Linked DNA regions of Homo sapiens. The protein of the gene in region 2 interacts with the protein of the main gene of each other region in a pairwise test. Each region holds a gene or a part of one and is shown on either strand. Other genes may lie near its edges. The genes, in order: ECT2 and POMP.

Evidence for each region.
Region 1: the proteins of POMP (region 2) and ECT2 interact in a two-hybrid assay, tested with the Homo sapiens proteins (one large-scale study listed by BioGRID).

Annotation. Positions count from the first base shown.
Region 1 is NC_000003.12:172,757,099-172,760,925, forward strand, and holds part of ECT2 (protein ECT2), read left to right. Parts: coding exon 1-67; intron 68-1,881; coding exon 1,882-1,971; intron 1,972-3,057; coding exon 3,058-3,165; intron 3,166-3,827. UniProt on the Homo sapiens protein: Guanine nucleotide exchange factor (GEF) that catalyzes the exchange of GDP for GTP. Promotes guanine nucleotide exchange on the Rho family members of small GTPases, like RHOA, RHOC, RAC1 and CDC42.
Region 2 is NC_000013.11:28,665,476-28,669,302, reverse strand, and holds part of POMP (proteasome maturation protein), read right to left. Parts: intron 831-3,827; coding exon 729-830; intron 1-728. UniProt on the Homo sapiens protein: Molecular chaperone essential for the assembly of standard proteasomes and immunoproteasomes. Degraded after completion of proteasome maturation. Mediates the association of 20S preproteasome with the endoplasmic reticulum.

The DNA.
Region 1 (3,827 bases), on a different chromosome or scaffold from region 2:
CCTCTACAAGGCTGATTGTAGAGTTATTGGACCACCAGTTGTATTAAATTGTTCACAAAAAGGAGAGGTAAGCATATACATTTATTATGACTTTTCAAGTTAAAATTTTTATTAATGAATTTTAATTAGCAAAAAATTTATTTGGAAAAATCTCATTGATTGCTGAGAGCAAAATATTTAGAATAGGAATAATAGTGGCTATTCTAATGTGGTCCTTTAATTCCTCCATTTTAAACTTAGTGGTGAAAAGCTAAGGCCTTTGAAAGTTAAATAATGATAACTGTACATATGCATATACACAGACAAATACATAGTCCTTTTTTTTTTTTTTTTTTTGAGACGGAGTCTTGCTCTGTGCCCAGGCTGGAGTGCAGTGGCACGATCTCAGCTCACTGCAAGCTCCGCCTCCTGGGTTCACGCCATTCTCCTGCCTCAGCCTCCCCAGTAGCTGGGACTACAGGTGCCCGCCACCATGCTCAGCTACTTTGTTGTATTTTTAGTAGAGATGGCGTTTCACCATGTTAGCCAGGATGGTCTTGATCTCCTGACCTCGTGATCCACCCGCTTCGGACTCTCAAAGTTCTGGGATTACAGGCGTGAGCCACTGCGCCTGGCGTATACACTATCAATACCACAATGTCTTAGAGAAGATTACTTGCTTAAACTTGGGTTCCAGAAATTCATACATATACATAAACTTTTATTTTTCTCAACACAGAACAGATACCACGGTTCCATTTTTATCAGTTACTGTATAACTTAAAATTCAAAAATTATTTTAGCTTTTTGTATTTATTTATTTATTTAATAAATAAATACACGATCTCTGCTCACTGCAACCTCTGCTTTCCCGGGTTCAAGCGATTCTACTGCCTCAGCCTCTCAAGTAGCTGGGACTGCAGGTGCATGCCACCACGCCTGGCTAAGTTTTTTCTATTTTTAGTAGAGACAGGATTTCACCATGTTGGCCAGGCTGGTCTCGAACTCTTGACCTCACGTTATCTTCCTGCCTCTGCCTCCCAAAGTGTTGAGATTACAGGCATGAGCCACCGTGCCCCGCTTCTTTTTGTTTTTAAACAGCATTTCAATATGAGTCGTATGAGAGTTAGTCCCTATTTGGTTTTGTTGCTGTCTTGGCATTCTTAAGCTTGCCTTGTTTACTTAAAATTGCTTAGGTCTTTGTACTTCTATTGTTACACATGTTAGTAATAATAAGCACATGTTAACCTTTAATTCTCTTACATTTTGATTTGGAGTGGTTGGTTTCAAAACCCAAATAAACTTTAAAAGGCCAAATTTTGAAAAATAATCTTATATAATGATGAAAATCAAATTTATTCTTTTATTATTTTTAAACCGTTCTCTTTTATACACACACACACACACAGACACACACACACACAACCGTTGGGTAAATTATTTACTGAATATCACCATTTATTAGCTTAAAGATTAGAATTATATTTGGTTTAAGTGTGTGTATTATATTTACTCAGTGTTTATTATAAAATGCCTCTGACCTGTTTTAATGACATTAATTAGAATCATCTATAGTAGTGTATGGAGTCTGAAAACTTTGCTTATAGTCAGTACTTCATGTCTGTCAGAGTGCATTTAATATTTGTTTAATTTGCTGAGAGTAAAGTGTGTTTAGATTATGTATATTGCATATGATTAAGGAATCGGGAAATATTTTTATTGGGAAACTTGCAATCTGTCGTTTTGCTGTTTTTTTGTTGCATATTGAAAAAATGCCAGTAAATCTTTGGATTGGGAAAGTTGAATGGCAAGAGGGGAAATGAAATATATTTAGCTTGAGAAAGTTGTGTTGTATTTTCTACTAAAGAGAAAGCTCACATTTAAAATTGTTGTATCCTTCAGCCTTTGCCATTTTCATGTCGCCCGTTGTATTGTACAAGTATGATGAATCTAGTACTATGCTTTACTGGATTTAGGAAAAAAGAAGAACTAGTAAGTATTACGAAACAAATTCAAAGCGTATTTTTTACAGCAAAATAAATTAAAATTGGCTTTTTTTTCTTTTTAGTATTATGGTTTTATTTTTAAAATATTGAAGGATAACTTATTATGGCTATACCAGATTTTAAATTTTCTGAAGAAACAAATCCTGAAGAGCCTTATAAAGAGACCAGTGTTTTGTCTAGGCTGGCTGATGTGAATTAATAGAAAGATTTCATAGCAATTCTGTTTGACTGTCTTGTTACCATATTGGCTACGTTGGTTATTTAAAGTTTTTGTTTATACATTGCAATTTCTTATTATGCAAGTTCAGCCTGAAAGTATTCTGTTGCCCTATAGAATTCATAGAAAGTTCCTTTTTTATTTTTATTTTATTTTTTTTGAGACAAGTCTTGCTCTGTCACCCAGGCTGGAGTGCAGTGGCGCAATCTCGGCTCACTGCAAACTCCGCTTCCCAGGTTCACACCATTCTCTTGCCTCAGCCTCCCGAGGAGCTGGGACTACAGGCGCCCGCCACCACGCCTGGCTAATTTTTTTTTGTATTTTTAGTAGAGATGGGGTTTCACCGTGTTAGCCAGGATGGTCTTGATCTCCTGACCTCGTGATCCGCTTGCCTCGGCCTCCCAAAGTGCTGGGATTACATGCGTGAGCCACCGCGCCCGGCCAGAAAGTTCTTTCTTTGGTTCACAATACTTTGTTGTTGGAACTGATGGGTATTACTCTGATTTTGTGGGAACAGTCTTGATGTGATAAAACTTGGTATTTTTTTAAAAAAACCAATATATTTACACAGTATGGTATTAAAAAGCAATATATTTAGGCCATAGGAAAGGCGGTTGTTTAACTTACATTTGTGTGAAATCTTTACTAATCCCACCTCTATAATTTTGCCTGTGTTAATAGGCAAACTAATCTTTTTTATACTTACTTTGACATAAAATTTAATAGCTTTATAAAAATCCCGTATGTATTTTATAAATAGAAAGTATTTAGCAAATGCTAAATGTGGGGTAAACATAGTTTAAAATTTTGTTCAAATTAACCATAAAGTCAGTGTTGCTTAATTTTTCTTTTGAGGTCAGGTTGGTGACATTGGTCCATCACATGGGTGGAGTTATTCGAAAAGACTTTAATTCAAAAGTTACACATTTGGTGGCAAATTGTACACAAGGAGAAAAATTCAGGGTATGTAAACTTGGGTATTTTTGTGTATTTCAATACAGCATTATTTTGGCATGGGTTTAATAATAGCAGTCTTTTATCTATTTCTTTCACAATTAAAGAAGAGAAACTCAATTTTTGCTATGAATATATTTAGTAAAAAATTTTAAATCATAAGAGTGGTTAAATTTTCTTTCTTTTCTTTTCTTTTCTTTTTTTTTAAATAGAGATGGGGTGTTGCTCTGTTACCCAGGCTGCTTTCGAACTCCTGGGCTTAAGTGATCCTCCTGCCTTGGCCTCCCAAAGTGTTGAGATTACATACGTGAGCCACCAGGCCTGGCCGAGTGGTTAAGTTTTAAGTAGGCAATGGAACTTGAGTGAGGTGTTGAAAGATGACTAGGATCGTGGGGGTTGGTAGATGAATAACATTGTAGGAATTGTGAAAGTAGGGAATTTACTCTTGTCTAAGTGCCTTTTTTTTTTTTTTTTTTTTTTTTTTGAGACTGAGTCTCTCTCTGTCACCCAGGCTGGAGTGCAGTGGTGCCATCTCGGCTCACTGCAAGCTCCGCCTCCTGGGTTCACGCCATTCTCCTGCCTCAGCCTCCCGAGTAGCTGGGACTACAGGTGCGCACCACCATGCCCGGCTAATTTTTGTAGTTTTCATAGAGACAGGGTTTCACCATATT
Region 2 (3,827 bases):
GTGAAGGTAAAAATGTCCACATTGTTCAGGAGCAGTTTCATTGGTGTCATGGGAGACAGAAACAGTGGGTTAAATAAATAGCAGGGAAAGGAGTATAGAAAGCAAATGTAGACAACTTTTCAAGAAGCAAAAGCACACTCAATGAGAGACAAGTTACTATAAAGGAATTTGAAATTGATACAATTTTTTTTTGTTTTAAAAGACAACAGCGGTTCAAATGCTACTGCTGAGACAGAGCAAGCAGAGAGGGGTTAAAGATATCAGCTTGAGAAGGCATCATTGATAAAGGGATTTTCCTGAAGTAATGTAACAGGATAGAATCCAAAGCACAGGTAGGAGGGTGGTTCTTACATAATTGGAAGGACATTTTCCAAGTACTTATTCCTTAGAAACAGGTATATTCAACTATATACAAATTGTATACTTGACACCTCCACTTGGATATTCTTAGAGGGATCTCAAATTCAATGTAATACATAAAAAAAAAACCCAGAAAAACATGAAAGCAGATGCAGGTAAGTTTTCAGACACTGAGCCTGTAATTTGAAGTTTTCCATTTAATGACTTCTTTTTTCCCTCTATGAAGTAGAAATCAAGGTCATACCCTAAAAAGGGGGAGGGAAGTAGAATAGGTTGTAAGGTAGATAAGGTATAAATAGCTGTTATGAAAACAGAAGATTCCTCATGAATGATATCGACACATATGCAACAGAGATCCATCAACTCACCTGCTGCACTGCCTTGAATTCCATCTGTAATTTTAGCGGAGCAAATAGACCCTGAATGTTTCTCAGTGTGGAAAAATTCATTTTATCTTGGTTGAGCTGGAACTACAAAAGACAATGTAATTTTAAACATTACACTCAATACTCTGCTTTCAAAACAGTTAGCAGTGGCATATATATAACACAATAGTTAGATGAAGAATTTTAATATCCATACCTGTAATAAAAACTAAGTATTTTTACTAATTTTTTCTGACAAATTTTAGACCACATATGTCTATATTTCATTTAGCATGCAGGTGTACTTTTACCAGAGTAAAATTACTACCAAAATTCCAAATTTATAAAAGTAAAGGAATGTGTCTCCTATTCAAAAGTAGATTTACAAGACAATCATATTTTAGCGCTTTTGATTAAAAGTACTGCAAAACTAGCAAAGGTGTAATTTGAGATCCAGAAAATGTCACATCCACTGACAAAAATAGTTAATTTCTAAGTATGAAGGCATATATTTAAAAGGATTCAGCAAAAGAAATAATCTGACCACTAAATCATCCTGTTAATTAAACTATGTTTAAACTCCACTTATTTTTGGTACTTGCCTCAGGGGAAAAACAAACATCTCTCAAAAGTTTATTCAATTTGTATTGGGTACTAATCAGCAATTTTTCCTGGATCATACTTTCACTAAGTACTGATATTACATTTAGGGAACTTTGGCCATAACTTAATGTATTTCAGGCAAAATGAATCGACTTGACTCATGGATTCTAAAACAGTTTCCAAAAATGGCTCCTAAGGATAGTGAATGTAATATGCAAACAGACTGTTACAAAGATTTGTCTGAGCTAAGGTGATTATAATGAGGTAAAGTCATTTCTTGTCATTTTTTATTACACGCTACTCTCTTGATAACATTGTCTTCTAATAGTAATCAAAAAGGTCATTTTGAACAAAAATCTATTGAGAGATTAGCACCTACTTGGGATATGACTATGAAGTTTGAAAGTAAGGTGACTAACCAAATGCTTTTTAATTACTTTAGCTTTACACAGCAAATTTTGACAGATGGTCCTTAGGGAAAACCTGCAGTATTTTATTATGGGTATATGATCTGAAGTTCTAAGTGAAGGGTTTGCTTTAAATATTGGCTTATCCTCATGATAATACAATTTTATTCTAAGAGACGGGTCTTGCTATGTGGCTGGAGTGCAGTGGCTATTCACAGGCACGATTATAGAGCACTACAGCCTCGAATTACCAGGCTCAAGCAATCCCCCGCCTCAGCCTCCCACGCCGCTGGGACTACAGGCACACCCCACCACACCCAGCAGTAAATGTAATTTTATGTATAATAACTCAATTTATGTAAATTTTGATGAATACAGCCATCTTGTAATGTGATATTAATACTGTAATTATCAATCAACATGTAAGTTAGCAACCGTGTGCAAAATTAGGCTCTGTGGCAACACACAACAAAACTGAACAGCCTACCTTGGAGATTATAATCCAGTTTGGAAGACATTATGTATGTATCTCAACCCTCCGCACTACTGATTTCTTGGGCCAGATAATTCTTCACTGTGGCAGGCTGTCCTGTGTACTGTAGGATGTTTGGCAGCATCCCTGGCCTCTACCCCATAGATGCCAATATTACATCCCCCCATCCCCCACCGCACCACTTGTGACAACCTAAAATGTCCTCAGACTTTGCCAACTGTTCCCTTGTAGGGGGCAGGAGGATGATCCTCCCCTAGTTGAGAACCACTGGTACAAATGATGATGGCCATCTTCCATCACTATCACCACTGAAGCTCCCAATCATGCAGAGCTACTAGAGGCCAGCAATATGCCAAGGATGGGCTATTACTAACTCCAGATGAGAAGACTAAGGCTTAAAGAAAATTAAGCAATATGCCCCAAGTTTACTTAGCAAAGTGGGGTGCCCACATAGTTCAACTACACAATCCATGCTGAAGGATTTATAATAGACAGTAAGAGTCACATAAAGAGTGAGACTGCCATTAGCTGGCTAAATGATTAAAGAAGAAGAGATGCAGTAGATGTATGTAAGTCTCAAAAAGATCTCTGAAGTTTTTAGATTCTTCACAGTTCCACCTAGTCTCACTCAGATTTGTCAGTTTCTCTTAATATGTATTGCTTAGAACTAAACCAATATTCCAAATCTAATAGCCAGACTAATACACAGGAAAATAATATAATCTCCCTTGATTTGAGCCCCATCTTATTAACAAAGCCCAAGACTGCATTAACCTTTCTTTTTAGTAACTAACGTAATCTGCTGGCTTATAGTGAGTATACAGTCAATTAAAATAGTCAAGTTTTACAGAGCAAGTCACTTTACCCTGCCCAAAGGTGTAGAATTCATTTTTTGAATCCAAACGCAGAACTTCACACTCACCTCTATAAATGTTTTCCTTAAATTTTGGTCTAGACTTTGGTCTATTTTATCACCATGATATAGTTCAATTATTCAACAGAATGAACTATCCTTCTCAACCTTTTTTCCAAAAACCTAATATACATTCTTTCTTTGGTTGCCCACAAGTCCTTGAAAAATACTTATCCTTCCTATGTGTCCACCTGACTACCTAAGATGTAGACAGAGGCCAAAAAGCCCTATCAAAATATTCCCTCCAAATTGACTATTCCCTAATCACCGTTCTCTGGGTACAGTTACCAACCTCATATACTTTACCCTACACTACTTTCACTCGGTTAATAATCCACCATGTAATCCTCAATCTTATCCCTTGTCAGATAATTTGATCCCTTGACTGACCCATTTGGCAACTGAGTAAAAGAGTGAACTAAAATTAATTTGCTGAGTTCATTCAGATGCTGATGATCACTGCTTACCCTATTAAATGCTCACAGCTCACTCAATAGTCCACTTAAGAAACAGTTTCAGGGATCAATGTTACCACAGACAATCTTATTTTTTAGTTAGATCCTTTATACAAAAGTGGAATATGTATCCATCTATAACCAATTTTCATTTCTCCCATTAGTTCTCAAAGATGATCAACTGTGCTTTTATAATCATACTCACATACTTATAAGTGTACTCTGGGCTGT